Linked DNA regions of Homo sapiens: region 2 is linked to region 1. A link means that fine-mapping ties the variant in region 1 to the plasma level of a protein whose gene starts in the linked region. Region 1 holds a variant in brackets. A gene starts in the other region. All regions are shown on their forward strands.

Region 1 (8,330 bases):
CAGATTCCTACAGGTTCATGGTACGCCCCAGCTAGAGAGGTAGAGCTCCCCACAGTGGCACATAAAGACAGCCGTGGCAACAGGTGGGAGTGGGGAGTCCGTGGCTGTTCCCTGGGGTGCATGGCTGAGACTCTCTACCATGGTTTGTAGAACAACACAGGCCAATCTCCTCTTTCCATGCTGGTCGGCCCAAGATTTGAACATTGAGCTCAGTGCACAAGAAATACTCAATCCCGCTCAATCACGGGGCCCATCCTGTACCATGAACATCAAACCAGAGGGAACCAGGGAGCAGGGTCCCATGCAGGGAGCTGGCCACATTCCCTTCCCAAAGGGTGGCAGCCCATTGATATTGACTTGCCTTTGTTCCACCTCTGTTGAGGAGGAAAATCCTTGTAAAACCTGACTACTGTGTGACTGGTATACGTATTTCATCCTTTTAAGAAAAAGTCTAAGGCTCCTGGGTTGAAAGCAGCCTAGTCATTTACGTGTCGTAGCTAGATGCATTTTAAGTGCATTTAAACATTATCTTGAATTTGCTACATGTAAACCTCAAATAACTCTAGTGGGTGGCAATTAATTAAACATCGGTATCCATCCCTTCCCTTCCTCGGTCTTCCCTCTCTGTGGCCTTTCCTCATGAGAAATCAGAATGTGCAGAACACAAGGCCTGCGGGTGCCTGGTCTATCTTCATGGCTGCTTTGCCAATGGCCGTGTGGCTCCGCACACCAAGAAGCTGCCACGGGCTGTCAGAGTCAAGGCTTCTGGGACTTCCTTCACTCCATGATGGCCTGAGAGAAGGTAGTGGGATCCCATCTCTCTCTGTTTGTCTCTTTTGAGGACTGGCTACTGTGCGGGTGGAGGATGGTTAGGGATTTTGCTGACAAGCCAAGGGTGCCTGTGTAAGCAGAGCCTTGACAGCCCCCGGAAGCTCTTGAGGGTGACCGTGCAGGCCACGGGTGTGAGAGGGGAAGCCTGGTACTTGGACAAAACGTCCAGACATTTTCAGGCTGTTTTTCAAGAGAAGTGAGTATCAAGAAAGGCAAGAATGGTCTCGCGAAGCTCTGTGAGGAGCATTTATTGATTTCCTTTCATCCCAGAAGTGGTGTTGGCTTGGGGGTTCTCCCAAGGTCTGTTAGCAAAGCATTTGGAACAAGAAAGCACCAAGACACCCCTAAGTGTCTGAAGTGCACACATGGGAGAGCTTCCAGAGGGAGTTTCAGAGTGAGCTGAAGGAGAAAAGTATCCTAAGCTCCTGAGGGTGTGGATAAAAGGCCCAAACTATTAAAAAAAACTAAATTCCTAAATTCCCTGCTATTTTATGAACAAGAAACTCTAACAGGTGATGCATTCAGAATTTGGGGTTCCAGTGGTGGAGATGGATTGCCATCCATCCATGCTCCTCCTGCTCTTGGGGTGACACCATAGCCCCACAAGATGTGGCTAAGTTTGGGGAATAATATGACCCATGTGTTGGCTCTCAGATTACTTAAGATTGGAACCCAGGAATCTGGTCTCAACAGCCCAGTGGTCTCATCAAACAGAACTAACTAACTGATCAACCAATATGCCTTGCAATTTGATAGCCATTCTCTGACTATCATATGCCTAAAGTATTTGATTTCTCTAAGAGAAGATCTACGTGAATGTTTTATCTGCTATATACTGCAAGCTATAAAACTAAATGAAGGGCCAGTTCAATAGCATTCCTGTGTTGCTGGGAAAGATGTGTAAGAACATGACCCATGTCATGGGGCTAATAATGGAAACAGGGGAGTGAAGCTGGGCAGCTCACGGACCAAAGACGTGAGGCCAATTACCATTTAGGATTAATTGATGGCAAAAAGAAATAATGTTGATCCAGGTGATTGGATAACTCATTCAGCTGGAGGCTTGTCAAGACTGAATCTGAATTCAGAATTTCTCCCCAGAACATGCCAATGTCCTTTCTTTTCTTGGTAGAAGAGAAACACTTGGAAAAAACAAATTGTTCTTTCCAAGTCTTATGTTGTGCCATGACATAGAGGGATTATCTGTTAAGACCACATATGCCCCCTTTTCCATGAGATCCTAAGGAGACATTTAATATGGTTCATGGAAGCTTTTAGGGCCATGTTAGTTTGGGTGACGAAGGGGCCTGGTACTCCCCAGTCAATAGAGGAAGTGCTGTATGAGCTTCTCTTTCCAATGCAAGCTTCATTCCAGGTTACTCAGGACTTGGATATACAAAGCAAATGTCTGGGGACACTGGGCCAAGCATCCTGTCATTTTGCAGACTGAAACCACAAACCCTGCTTATTTGATAAGGCCCAGGTTCTGAACTAAACATGACTGAAGTCCACGACAGGGCGCAACTAGCCTACCATGTACGTTCATCCAAAATGGAAAACAAGACTCCCTCTGGTGGGCCCAGCCTCACAGATGCCCAGCTGACCAGGCAAAACACAGGCTGGGTTTCAGCCCCTATTGATCCTCAGCTGCCCTGGTGCAGTGAATAACCCACGCCACTGTACATGGCCACCCTTGTCCGAGGAGCCTGTTTCAGAAAGAGCTGTAACACACAGCAGCTTCTCCAGGGCCCCCAATACATGGCCTCAGGTCATGTGATTTGGAGCCTGTCTCTGCCTAATCCTGCTCATGGGGAAGCTTCCTTTCACAGTGGCTGTAACATATGAAAACCACAGTAGGAGAAATCTGGCTAGTCACTGTGGGTTGCCTTTGCTTCACCTTCCAGCTGTTCTTCAGATTCTTTGGTGGGAAGTCTCAGGCATTACTGACCAGGGAGAGGAGGTGCCTTCTCTCACTGAAGACTCTTTCCTGTTGCTTGGTGATGTCTAGCCTGCCACTCTCTGCTATCTTCCTGGTTTTGCAGTTGACAGAGGACAATAGGAGCATGAAGGTGGCCAGAGCTGAAATGCTCACCCTCCCACTGCTTCTTGAGACAGAGTCTCACTCTCCGAGCCTGGAGTGCAGTGGCACAATCTTGGCTCACTGCAACCTCTGCCTCCTAGGTTCAAGCGATTCTCCTGCCTCAGCCTCCCGAGTAGCTGGGATTACAGGCACACGCCACCACACCCGGCTAATTTTTGTACTTTTAGTAGAGATGGGGTTTCACCATATTGGCCAGGCTGTTCTCAAACTCCTGACCTCAAGTGATCCACCTGCCTCCCAAAGTGCTGGGATTACAGGCATGAGCCACCACACCCCGCCCTCTGCTCTCTCTTAAGTGTGCTTGTTGCTTCAGCTTCCACAGAGTCTACCACAGTGGGGTGGGGGGCCTCACCAAAGAGGGCCTGGCTCTGACATAGAGGACCAGGAGCATGCGTGGGAGGGAGAGGGGGCAAGAGGAATCGGGGCCAAGCCACAGCAGCAGCTCCCTTGTTGAGATAGATACTGGCTGAAGCCATCTGGTGAGAGCTCCAATCTGGGGAGGAGAAGCTGGAGAAAGTCCTTTGCTCCTCTGTCCAGTTCCACAGAAAAAGCCGCAGAGGGTGATAGCACTGAAGTTAGGAGAAAATGGCAGCCCCGAGTGAGGCTGGTGTCAGCCTCCCTGGGTACCTTTGGAGGCTCAGTTGAAACCTTACCTGCCCTCTTGAGAGCTTCATCAGCTCCAGCCTTGGGCTCCAAAGATAGATAGATAGAAAATGGGGTTGCTGGTGCCAGAGCAAGCACTGGAGGCCACGGAGGAGAAGGGAGAGGAGGACCAGGCGTTCATCCACCTCCTAAGAGAGCATCGAAGTTTAGCTTTGCCAAGGTGCTCCTTGGAATTGCGGCAGGAAGGGCCGGAAGCTGCAGAAGGCTTGGCATGTGATGGGTGGCATCTCTGCGACAGGCTTTCCTGTCCTGCCTGCCTGCCAAGGAATGCAGCAGGCAAGTCAGATGGGGAGCGGGAAGCTCTGGGAGCCAGCTGCCACTCAGCCTCCCTCGCCCCCTCCTTCCATCCCCCTGTTCCTTCCCCTGCCAAAAGCCAAGGAAGAGCTAATGAGAGCCAAGAAGTCAACAGCTCACTCATCCCCCTCCAGGCAGCTCTGCAGAGAGAAACTCCCAGCTCCAGGCCCAGGTGCTGACCGGAAGTGGAGGGCTAAGGCTCTCCGCAGGGGAGGGGGCAGGCAGGCAATCAGGGCAGTCAGCCAACCGGCAGAAGCAGCTCCTGCCCCCAGGAAGGCGGTGTTGTTTTCCCCTCCTCCTCAAGGTTTCATGGGGAACAGCCTTGCACCCTGGTGGAATGAGTTCCCAAATACCTAGACTCAGCAGAATCCCCAGAGGGCTTTGACCTCAGTTGAAATGATCTTTCTGTGCCTCTGGCAAGGGCCAATTGGCTAAAAATCTTTCCAAAGGGTTAGTTTTTATTGCAAAC[A/G]GTCCTTGGACTCCTTTGGGACCACTGGGTCACAAACATTAGTGCCAGCCTCTCCCATCTCAGAGCACTGAGATCCAGCTGCAGTGAAACCCTGGCCCTGGCTGGAGCTGGAGGGAGACTTCCATCGAAGTGTTTGGGAAGGAAAGCAGGGAAACCTGCCTCTCTGGAGCAGCAAGTGCATGTCCTGGGACTCTGAGACACCTCAGCAGCCCTCCTGCAGACTGGCTCCTGCTTCCAGCCTCAGCTTGCTAGCTATGTGACCTCAAGCAAATCACTAGCCCTCTCTGAGCCCTGGTTTTCTCCTCTGAAATGACTTGGACTAGGTCGTCTCGATGGTCCCTTCCAGCTAGCGGTGTTCTGCAGGTCTGTGCTTCCCTCTGTCCTGAGATTTCTGAGTTATATAACTCATTCCTTAGAATGGGAGAGGAGCTGTCTTCTTGCCCAGTTAGTTACCTGATTCAGAAGTGCCTGCCAGCCTGTGAGGCTGGGAAATAAACTGTGGATAGACTTGAGTTGGGTGTATTTACAAAGCCTGGACATGCACTGGCAGGAGAACTGAGTGCCCCAGGCTCCCCACACCTACACCACAGGCCCTGCTCAGTTGTTCAGGGTTCACTCGTCCACGGTGAGTCGCCGGAGGGTCAGGGAGGACTCACAGAGAACAGGGTGAGTGCCCTACACCCTTCAGCTTGCCAGTTCTGCAGTCCCCACCCTTCCGGTCTGGATGCCCAGCTGTGTGTGTGTGTGTCAGGTGGGGTCAGCTGGGCAGAAAGGTGGACCCCAGGGTCGGTGTTGCCGCATCACTGCATGCACTGTGGGGTCCCAGGGGCCCTATGGGTATAGGAAGGAATGAAATGTGAGCACTTGGGAATCTCAGCACACTCTGCTGCTCACCTGCTACCAGGCTTTCTGGTTCCCCAGGGAACCCTGGGCCAGCTTGTTGCTGTCCTCTTTTAGCGATGGGAAATAAGAGTATGAGAGACAGTGTTATCCTGTTTACAATCAGTGGTGAAGTCCGTGGTTAAGACCAGGTTACAACTCCTCTATGCTTCGCTTCTTATCTTGACTCTGTGTGAAATTAGGAAAAGCATATTTACTGTTATAGTTTTGTAGCTGGAAAATGAAAATATAAAAGTCTATTTTTTATAAACTACAAAATGTAAAACAACAGACTCAGTATGGCTGGTGGGTACAGAGAAGACAAAGTGGCTCCTCACGGGGTTGACAGGAGTCTCGAGACTTTTATCAAAAAAGGCCAGAAGTTGGTTGTCATTTTTGAGACACTGGGCCCTAGACCCTGACGTTTCCGTTGGAAGGAGGAGCCCCCAGCTGTTCCCGCTGATGGTTCAACCTGTCCGCCAAAAGCAGCCAAAATGCTCTCCCCACGGAGTGCCCACTTGGAGAAAAACCCCACTGGTGACTCACCTTCTGGACATGTGGGGCAATCAGGGCCCGGTGGAGGCAGCTGCTCCTGGCTTTCCCTGGTGGGCCCTCCCTCGACCCCCGCCCAGGCCCTCTCCTGCCTTCCCCAGACCCCAATGTGCCAAGCAGTCAAGTGAAAATCAAATCCTCTGAGGCAGAAAGACACAGCTGTGTGTTTACAGCCACTGATTCAGATCCAAATCGCGTACCCTGCCAGTCTCTAGCAAGGCAGGCTGGGGGCAAAGTGTGTGTATGCCAAGCAGGGATCTATTTCGGGAGGTGACCTGCAGGCCTTCGCCATGACAGTGCCTTCCTCCCACCCACTCTCAGGAAAGGTGCTCTCACTTTACAAGCGGCTGATGGGGTTGTGGGGTCTCGGCATGCTTGTCACTTGTGCAGTCAGACCCCAGTGCCATCCTCGTGCAGCCACATGGGAACTGTGTGGGCTCCCACCTGCCTAGTAAGAAGGCAGAGAGTGAAGGGGAGTGCAGGGCCCCCCGCAGGATAAACAGCGGGAAGGCCGACCACTCAGAAGACAGGATGCCCGCCTCTGCCTAGGACAGAGCCTGCCTCAGTCCTGTCCGGGGAGCAGCAGCACCGCAGCAGAGGGGGCCAGAGAAAGAGCATCCAATGGCAGGAGTCTGGCAAGGCGACAGCACTGCCAATGTCACGGTCAAGGAGAGGAGACCCAACTCTGCCTGTGGTCCAGACTGGAAAGTTCAAAGAGAAGTCAGAGAGCTTCAAGTCTGAGGACTTCAAAGGCTAAGAAGTAAGACCCCCCCCCGACCCATGGAAGTCCCCCCAAAATGAGCTCCTGGTGGAAACAACAGGGGATGCTTCCCCCTTTTAAAATAGTGATGAGTGTCCCTGGTTTGAGTTGAGTTAGGAAAGCATGACATTTTGGAAGGAGGCCAGGATACCTGTCCATAGGTAGGAATAGCCTGTAAGATGTTGCCCTCCTGCAGTGTGGCTAAATGGGACACTGCCGGGGGTGGGACTCAGAGCAGTGGGATTTTTAGTTTTGTCATGTTTGCCCAAAGGTGGATGAGAGAAAGACCCTTGGGTGTTTGCTTAGTGGCTTCCCAATGGGTGGGAAGGTGAGACGGGGTTGGAAGCATGGAGCCACCCCAGCAGTGGCAGGGCCACAGGGCAGCGGTTCTTCCATGCCCCCTAATCATGGCCACATTGTATCAGCCTGAGCATGAGCAACAGCACCATGGCCACATACGGGAATGGGCCTCATTGGTGTAATATTTGGCAGATTCTCTCCACACCCCCCGTGGCGGTCTGGCTTACTGTTAAGAAGGGTAACCTTAAAAAATACATTTCCCACTCCAGAAAATACTCATATGTGGCCTGTTAGCAGCACAAGAAGGGTGAAAGCAATGCCCATTCCTGCCTCCCTCCCCCTGCTCACCTCCACGTCCCTGTTTGCCCCTTTGTAGGTGAAGTGAGTATATTCAGCGTCTTCATGGCAGGGGAGAGGGTGTATTAATCCGTCTATGTCCGCTGGAAAGGCAGTCTCTGAGCGGGCCACAAGGGTTCAGCCATGGCCCATCCAATAACCTTTTTGATGACTTGGATGAAGAGACAAACATTCCAACCACATTCAAAGATCCAGACCTCCAAAGTGTGGCTCATTTGGTAGATAATGGAATTATATTTGGAAAGCATTTCCCGCAGCTGGGATGATGGGTCAAAAACAGATAGCATTTTACCAGATCATATTTGTGTGTGTGTGTGTGCGCGCGTGTGTGTGTGTGTGTGTGTGTGTTTTAAATTCAGTTTCCCAACTACAGGATGGCATTTGTAGCCTTTCCTAAAAATCAAGTTTAAAAAAAAAAAATTTCTTGGGTTGTAATTGACGATAAGCTTAGTGTAAGCAAATGCAGAATGCAGCTGCTTTCCAAAGGGCAGCTTTAGGCTATATAACAAAAGTGGGAAAGGAAAAGTGTTCCATTGCTTTTTGTTGCTCTAAGCAATATTAAGTCTTGGTTCTAAGCCCCCACATTATCAGGAACTTTAACATCTAGAGACAATTGAGAGAGAAGAGCTAGAGAGAGAAAGTGACCCTGGAAGCCACGTCGGAAGAGGCTGGAGTAAAAATGTCTAGCCCCCCAGCAGACTTGATGGCCACCGTGAGCTCTTTGCATTTGTCTTCAAGAGTGGACACTTCCGGGTTGCTCCAGAGAGCAAGGCTAGAACAAATGGCTAGAAGATAGATAGGTAGATACTAAAAATATTCTAACAATAACAGAATATTCCAACAATAGACTATGTCCCCTCAAAGGGCAACGAGCTCCATGTCTAGCCGTTTAGAAGCTGAATGGCCAAGGATAGTGCAGAGTAGGTTTCTACACCAGATCCCATGATCTTTTGCAACTGGAATTCTATGCTGCCCCAAATACTTGTTAAATGGATCCGACTGCATTTCATTCTGTGGTTTATAAATAAGTCCTGGAAAAGGAGAATGAATTATAAGGAAGGAGTTTGCTGAGATTGGAGGAGAGGGATCTGAAAGACTCAGGACTAGACTCCGCCTTGAGGGAG
Region 2 (8,330 bases), not on the chromosome of region 1:
CGCCCATGGTCCATGGCATGCTGCATCGGAGCTTTAGCCCATTCCATAGCTTCTTTCCAGAATGTCCCATCCCTTAACCACTCAGAGAAAGAATTCTTGAACTCCTTCGTGTGACTTTCACAGTGAATTCGCCCCCAGGCTTCTAACACCGTTCATTTCCATGTACGTTGTGTGCTGCACACCCCTCCTAGCACACTGCTTACGAACTGCTGCTCCGCCTTGCTTATCTACACAGGAGTAAACGTGATGGACACACAACTCTTGCTGCCTCTCACAAATATGCCGGCGTATGGGAGGGTCTGAGCTGGAGGGAGGCGCACCTTGGATTGGTGTGAATCAGGCATCAGGAACTCCTGTGCTCACAGCTTGTCCAGCTCTCCCTCAGCATTTGGGCCACTCCACAGAATTCTTTGTTCAGGCCCGATCTGTCCTCCTGGGACATCTGAGCTGCTCAGCACCAGGAAACATGCTCTGTTGTGCGCAGGGCATCAGCTTTGCAAATAATCCAGTTACGTTCCCATTGGTAGCTGGCGTCACACTTTATGTCCTTGTAAAATTTTGAGTGGAGCCTAATCACAATGTAAGGTCTCATTTTTAATGTTTAATTAGCATCCTCCCAGTAAAGTCTGAAATATTTTACCAAAGCGTAACAATGTTTTTCATTCTTTAAGTAAAGTACACATGCATGTGGCCCAAAACTATGACTTGAATGTTGAATGTGAGGCTGCCTGCCGGGCACTCCCCACCCAAGCATAGAAAAAAGAAAATCGGGCCGGGCGCGGTGGCTCACACCTGTAATCCCAGCACTTTGGGAGGCTGAGGTGGGCGGATCACGAGGTCAGGAGTTCGAGACCAGCCTGGCCAACATGGTGAAACTCCGCCTCTACTAAAAATACAAAAAAATTAGCCGGGTGTGGTGGCGGGTGCCTGTAATCCTGGCTACTCAGGAGGCTGAGGCAGGAGAATTGCTTGAACCTGGGAGCTCAGTGAGGTTGTGGTGGGCTGAGATCGTGCCACTGCCCTCTAGCCTGGGCAACAGAATGAGACTCCATCTCAAAATAAATAAATAAATACAATAAAATCTTGGGTTCCTTGAAGGGGAATTCCAGCCACCTAGCTAGCCCTGAGAAATACATGAGCAACTTGGGAAGCAAGAAGTTAATAGTGGCGAGAAACAATAGTCAAGAGAGTTAGAGTCAGGAATTCATTGCTTCCCTGTAGAAACTAAAGACAACATCGTAACAAACGACCCGGAGTTGTTTTTCAGAACCTGGACCCCCACCAAATGGATCTGTTGACTTACAGACCTCTGATATGGGGGAGCGGAGAGCTGAACTCCACCACCGTTCTTTGTTCTTTGTTTTTTGAGACAGAGTCTCACTCTGTTGCCCAGGCTGGAGTGCAGTGGCTCAATCTCAGCTCACTGCAACCTCCGCCTCCTGGGTTCAAGCGATTCTCTTGCCTCAGCCTCCCAAGTATCCTCCTGAGTACAGGTATGCACCACCACACCCGGCTAATTTTTGTATTTTTAGTAGAGACGGGGTTTCGCCATGTTGGCCAGGCTGGTCTCGAACCCCTGACCTCAGGTGATCCACCTGCCTCAGCCTCCCAAAGTGTTGGGATCCACCCCTCCGGGCCCACCACTGTTCTTTGTTCTAAATTTCTTCCTGAGGGGCCTGGAGGAGGTCATGCCCACAGGCCAGAGCTAACATTCTTTTTTGCTGATCTCAAATTTTTTGACAAAGCCTTGCCTTCTTAACCAATCACAAATCAGAAAACCTCTGAATCTACTACCTATATGACCTGTGGGCCCCCAGTTCAAGATGTCCTAGCTTTTTAGGTCAAACCAATGTGCAGCCTCCAGGTATTATTCATGTGGGACTTAGCCTGTAACCTCTGCCTCTCCACCTTGAAAAACCCTCCCCCATCAGCCATCGGGGAGTTCAGGTCTGAAGTGTGAGCTGCCAGGTTCTGCTCGCCTGGTGCCCTGCTCTAAATGCCTCACTTCCTCTCACTGCAATCCCGACGTCCATGTTTGGCTTTGCTGCGGGAGGGCAGAGCCAGGCTGGGTTTGGTGACAAACGCTGAGTGCTCACCAAGTACCAAGCCCTGTTCTCGGGGCTGGGGTGCAGAGCGAACAGGCAGAAAGAAGGTCTCTGCTCTCATGGGGCCTACGCCTCGGTGGGGAGAGACTGACAATAAATGAAATAAACGTCTAAGATATGAAGTACATTGGATCGTGGTTAGTGGGATCGAGAAAATACAGCAGGGGAGGGCTTTAGGGGGAGGGAGACCTGCTGTCAAGGTGATGTTTGGGTGCCGAACACCCCGACGTTTGGGTGATGGAATGAGATGCTCAGAGACATCAGAGTTGCTTGGTTCCAGGCCCATGGACCACTCAAGGCCCTGTCTCAAATCTCCAGGCTTCAGGACACGCTGCTTTACATGGAGGCGGGCTCTTCATCTGGGCCTCTGAACAAGGCCTGAGACAGGACGCAGGCAAATAGCATGAGGCACGAGACTGTAGTCCGGGATGGAGAGTCAGAGTGAGTCTGAGGATGAGTGCAGATGCCTGCAGGGCAAGCTCTGCTGAATTGCTTTGCTATCTAGTTTTTATTACAGTCATTGAATCGGGGTGTCTCCCATTATCTGATGACAATTTTATGATGAAAAGAAACCATGCTGGCTTTGTTCGGTCATGGAGATGGGAAAGGTCCGCATATTCAGCAATCTGTTGAATTCTTCCAGGTTAAAACTGGAGCTGAGAAAAACCTGCAGCTGCCTGTCCCTCCCTTCACCTCTTCCAGCGAGAGGCAGTGGGGGACTGGAGAGCTGATGAAATGGCAGAGATAAAGGTTGTAAATTAGTTTTCCCTGAAGCCGACCAGCCTGAGCAACAGGATAAAGGTCGTTATTACAGACAGCCCCCGGCCTTTGGAGTTCACAGTTTCTCCATTGCTAGGAGATGGAACTCTCTGGAACCCTTCTCCAGCTCCACAGAGAGGCTCAGGCTATCAGAGGATCTGAGCGGTTGTAGGCTGCAGGCACAAGTTAAAAATAATCACCTAACGTTTTGACAGCACTTTCTTTTTTTCTGTCCCACAGAGATTGGAAGTCATTTTCTTATCCTCTTTAGGAAGTATGTTGGATTCAGGATTCTTAATTCCCATTTAAAGTCAGGACAATTGAGATAACTGTATCAGCTAACATTTACTGGGTGTTATGTTATACTTGCTAATAATAATCATAGCTAACATTTACTGAGTGATAATTTTTCTTAATAGAAAATAGCAGCATTTACTGAGTGCCACATATTTTCCAAGTACTGCCTGAAGAGCCTTGGATCTGTCCTCTAATTTATTGTTACAGCCCTGAGGAGGAGGAACTATTAACCCCCATTTTGTGGATGAGGAATTCGAAAACTAAGAGAGATCAAGTAATTTGCCTAGGAGCACAGCTGGTGAATGTTGGAGAAAGTATGAAGCGGTAAATATTACTTAAATCACATAGCAAATATAGCTGTGACTGCAATTCTAGGGTGTGTGTCTCTGTGTGTCCACGTGTATTTGGAGTAGATCGGATAAACTTTGGTCTTGGGTAAACTGAGGCATGTCTGGCGAAGGGGCTGACTCTTTTCTATCCCATTGAGAACATCCTCCTGGTGCTGGGGTGGGGGTATATGTGGGATGGTGTAATTGCGCAGCGTACCTTGTAATTAATTCCGTAGCTTTCACTGACGTCCGAAAGGATTAGAGAGAAAAATGTGGTCAGCGCTTAATATGGAGGGCACAGTGGGTGTGCTGCTTTCTCTTTTCCATCCCTCTGTCAACTTCATTCTCTTTTGGGGGCAAACAAGACTCAGATCTAAACAGAGTTTATGGTTTGTTTTGCATTTTGTATTTATTAATATTTATGCCGACTTTGAAGGTGCTGACCAGAAGGCATCAGTAACACACACACGCACACGCACACACACCACACACCATGTCTGTTTGGTTTGATTCTGAGCCTGAGATCCTGGAAATATTTCAGCTGTTGTTAAGAGGCTGGAGTTAGGACCCAGGAAGGACACAGCAGTGGGGATATAAATAGAAAAGGAGAACAGAACAAAGTTTGAGGAGAGAGACTTACATCACTCACTCCCCCTCCACCCAGAGAGCAGGACGGAGGTGTGAACTTGAGCCAGACCAGAAGGAGCTCGAGAGCGGCCGCAGGACAAGCCCGAGGAGCAGGCGGGCGCTCCAGGGGAAAACCACGCACAAAACCTTCTTCAGAGAAAAGGGAAGCTCCAAACCTGACTGAGACAAACGGAGGCTCTTGAAATAAAAAGAAAATACCGCAGGACAAACAGCCTCCCGTCCCCGGGCGCAGGTCGCGGTCACAGTGGTGACCTGGGATTGCTTTCCCAGGACTGCGAGTCGGGTTTGGGTTTCTCCTCCCTGCATTCCACAGCTGCTCTGGTCATCGCAACGTGTTTATTGATCACTGAAGAATCTCAAGTTTTGAGACGAGGAAGAAACACCCATTAGGTCTCCAAGACAGCTGTGTTTCACAAACTTTAAGGAGACAGAAATTTTCTCCCCTGGAACCTGTGAAAATGTCCCTTTTCCAAGGAAGTGAAGGTTAAGAGGTCCCGTTCTCACAGACCCTCAGGAATTTCACTTGGCTCCGAGCTTTGACCTCCGAGAGAGCCATGGAAAAGCTGCTGCGGCTGTGCTGCTGGTACTCCTGGCTGCTGCTATTTTATTACAACTTTCAGGTAATGTCCCCAAGTGGCCAGGATGGCGACAGGCTTGGTTTCTCCGGAGGCTTTCCCTGAGTGTGTCTCACACTGTGGTCTTTTGTGCGCAGGTGCGTGGCGTCTACTCCAGATCGCAGGACCATCCAGGTAAGAGTGTTTCCTTCTCACTCTGAGCACCGCTCTCCCCCTGCCTAGTGCAGGTATCTCAGGAACAGCCCACTTGTTCATCTCTGAGGCATCAGCGAATGGCCCTTGTTGGGCTCCTGGTCCCCGACCTCACTGCCTCACCACACACTGTGACCCTGGGCAGCTCTGCTACCCCTCACCGGCTGAGCGGTGGATGGAGAAGTGGTTCTGGGCCCCTTGAGCTGGGTCATATGAAACATTGTGATTAAGGAAATATGATCTTCATTTGAATGCCTTCTGCCTCTTTCTTTCTCTCTTTCTCTCTTTCTTCCTTTCTTCCTTTTTTTCTTTTTGAGATGGAGTCTTGCTCTGTTGCCCAGGCTGGAGTGCAGTGGCCGCAACCTCTGCCTCCCGGGTTCAAGCAATTCTCCTGCCTCAGCCACCTGAGTAGCTGGGATCACAGGTGTGCACCACTACACCCAGCTTTTTTTTTTTTTGTATTTTTAGTAGAGACAGGGTTTCACTATGTTGGCCAGGCTGGTCTCGAACTCCTGATTTCAGGTGATCCGCCCGCCTTGGCCTCCCAGAGTGCTGGGATTACAGATGTGAGCCACCACACCCATCTCATGTCTTCAGGGCAGATTCACTGGTGGGGAGTTGGAGCTCTGGCCCATAGCAGGGTCTCGGGACCTCCAGCCTCAGAGTGCTGACCAGCTTAGCCTGGAGCAGCCGATGAGTGGGACTCGGGATAGAGGGCCACCCTTGCTCCAGCCCCAGAGCCACATTCCATTGGCCATTGTGACACCCAACCAGGAAGCATCAGGACGGGGCTTCTCTCGGGAAGACAGGGAGGCACACACCCTTCGCTGTTAAGAGTGTGGGCACACGTTCTGGTCAGCCAGGGGCAGGGATGGGAAGACGAGGCTTTCTGGGAGCAGCAGGCAGTCACTGGGCTGTTGCTCCCTGCTGGAAGTTGCAGGAGGTGGGGAGGAGACCCTGCTAGTGCCTGAACCCCTGCTGGGAAGCCTGTTGTGAGCACAGCCTCTGCCCCCGCCCCACCAGAGCTTGGCTGGGCACCCCCCCGAGCGCTATTGTATGGCCCTGCCTGTCTCTGATGGGAAATCAGCCTTTTTAAAAAAATTATTTTTGTTTTTATTTTTTGAGACAAAGTCTCACTCTGTCACCCAGGCTGGAGTTGAGTGGTGAGATCTCAGTCTCGGCTCTCTGCTACCTCTGCCTCCCGGGTTCAAGCGATTCTTGTGCCTCAGCCTTCCAAGCAGCTGGGATTACAGGCCCATGCCACCACGCCTGGCTAATTTTTGTATTTTTAGTAGACACAAGGTTTTGCCATGTTGGCCAGGCTGGTCTCGATCTCCTGACCTCGGGTGATCCAACCACCTCGGCCTCCCAAAGTGTTGGGATTACAGATGTGAGCCACTGGGCCTGGCTGGGAACCAGCCTTTAATGATCAACCACAAATGGACTCAGGCCAGCACTGTGGGCAGATCCCAGGGCGATACCCAGGCCTCCAGGGAGAGCCCCTTTCCTGGATGGAGCACCAGGAGCCTGCTGGGGTCTAGGGCCAGGGGCTGTGCCCTCAGCCTCTGTCTCCTTTCCGGCTGCCCGGCAGCCCCATGCCAGGATGTTCCAGGCATCGTCGCCTCGCCACCACCTCCATTCACCAACTCGGGGGTGGGGACGCTGCCACTTCTGTTTCGTCCACATGCATAGGGAGCTCCTTTTAAAAAGGTGTGGAAGCTGTGAGTTTCCACACATTCCCCTCTCCTCAGCCAAATCGCTGAATGAAACAAGGGCTCCTGTGGCTTGGGAACGAATAAACATGCCCAGCGCTGCGTTAAAGAGAGGACGTGTCCACCTTGGACACCTTGCTTCTCGTGAATGCAGGCCTCATGGCTTGGGCTGGGCTCCAGTAGGGGAGAGGACTGAGAGGAGGAGAGGGGTAGCCCCTCGAACTGCAGGGCGGTCAGGCAGAGCTGTGCACCCGGCTCCTGCAGCAGGCAGGTGGCCCCCGAGGCCCCAGCATGGCCCTCACTGCTGCTCAGTGTTGGAGAAAAGCTGTGCGGGTTCTCCCCGGACTTCTGCTTATGATACAGAGCCCACACGCATTCTCACACATGCACATGTGTCCACATGCCCCCCCATGCTACATGTCTACATGTGTCAACATATGCCCACATGCACCAACACAAATCACACACATCCACACATGGTGACACATATGCATACACACACACACCAGATGTCTACATGTGTCAACATATGGCCACATGTGCCAACACACATCACATGTCCACACACCACTCACATCCATACACATCAGACATGTTGACACACATGCATACACATGCAAAAGCATCCACACATATGCACACACCTGCATGCATCAACATGTGTCCACATGCATCCACACATGTGTCCACACAATTCACATGTGTAGACACACATGCACATATATACACATCCATGCACACACCCACACCCACATGTGCCAACACATGTCTACGTGCATCAACATACATGTATTTACACATGTTCACACATGTCCACACATATCCACGTGTCTACACACATGACCACACAGTCACAGACTACACACATCCACATGCATCCACACACATCCATACATTTCTACACACATGCATACACGTACACACATTCACAAAAGTCCACGTGTCTACACACATCTGCACATGCTCGCACATCTCTACACACATGCACATACATACACACATGCTCACACACGTACACCCCACACACGTCCACACACACTCATATGCATGCACGTGTCCACACACATCTTCACATACTCACATGTGTGCACACACATGCACACACACCCTCACACATTCACACACATCCCACATCCACACACATGTACACCTATTTACACAGCTCACATATCCACACACGTACACATATGTACACACACATGCACATGTGCACTTGCATTTTTGTATCTAAACTTGAAGGAGCAGTTTGAACTCAGTCTTTGTTCCATATAGAAGCTTTGTTCTTCCAAGTCTGGATTTAGGGTAGAAATCAACATTTCCTGATCAAGGCACTGTCTTAGAGAAACGACGGCCATGCTGATGACAGTAGAAAGGGACGGAAGGGTGTGGTGACCCCTAGTCTGTGTGGAAAAGCACAGTGAAGGCGGCCATGCCTCCTGAGCTCTTGAAACCGCAAGGTTTCTCTCTCCTCAGCTTTCCAGGTTCTAGCAGTCCCTCTTTTTCTCCTCGTCCTTCCTCGTCCTCCTCTCACTGCAAATTGTTTTTGAACTTTTCCTTTTTTCTCTTCCTTCCTCCTTCCTTCCTTTTTAGAATAATGGTGAAGGTGGACACATTTGCTGAATATTTAGGTGCCCTCCATGAACAACACATCCTGCTGCCTGCCTTCCTTCCCTTCCTCCTCACTGTTCCCCTCCTCCCCTTCTCCCCTTCTCC

Alleles and levels. Alleles are on the strand shown, and positions count from the first base shown. The strength of an association depends on the size of the effect and on how common the allele is.
For the plasma level of the protein whose gene starts at base 4,134 in region 2, allele G in region 1 goes with a higher level than allele A (weak association).

The links. PIP is the chance, under the fine-mapping model, that this variant and not a neighbour inherited with it causes the effect. Protein levels are from antibody-based Olink assays in UK Biobank. Linkage for the fine-mapping came from a reference panel and not from the study's own genotypes, which makes the PIPs less certain.
Region 2: it holds the start of ADGRD1, and the variant in region 1 is fine-mapped to the plasma level of the ADGRD1 protein (UK Biobank, PIP above 0.99).

Annotation. Positions count from the first base shown.
Region 1 is chr14:72,540,819-72,549,148 of GRCh38, forward strand. The region is part of intron 17 of RGS6 (regulator of G protein signaling 6); the gene reads left to right. Among named protein-coding and RNA genes, the nearest start is that of MIR7843, 28 kb to the left of the region's middle. RefSeq lists an enhancer at 4,003-4,781. The variant A/G (reference allele first, on the strand shown) is at 4,359.
Region 2 is chr12:130,949,774-130,958,103 of GRCh38, forward strand. It overlaps ADGRD1 (adhesion G protein-coupled receptor D1), which reads left to right and starts at 4,134. Exons shown (of 25, transcript NM_198827.5): 1 at 4,134-4,758; 2 at 4,851-4,887. The coding sequence starts at 4,693.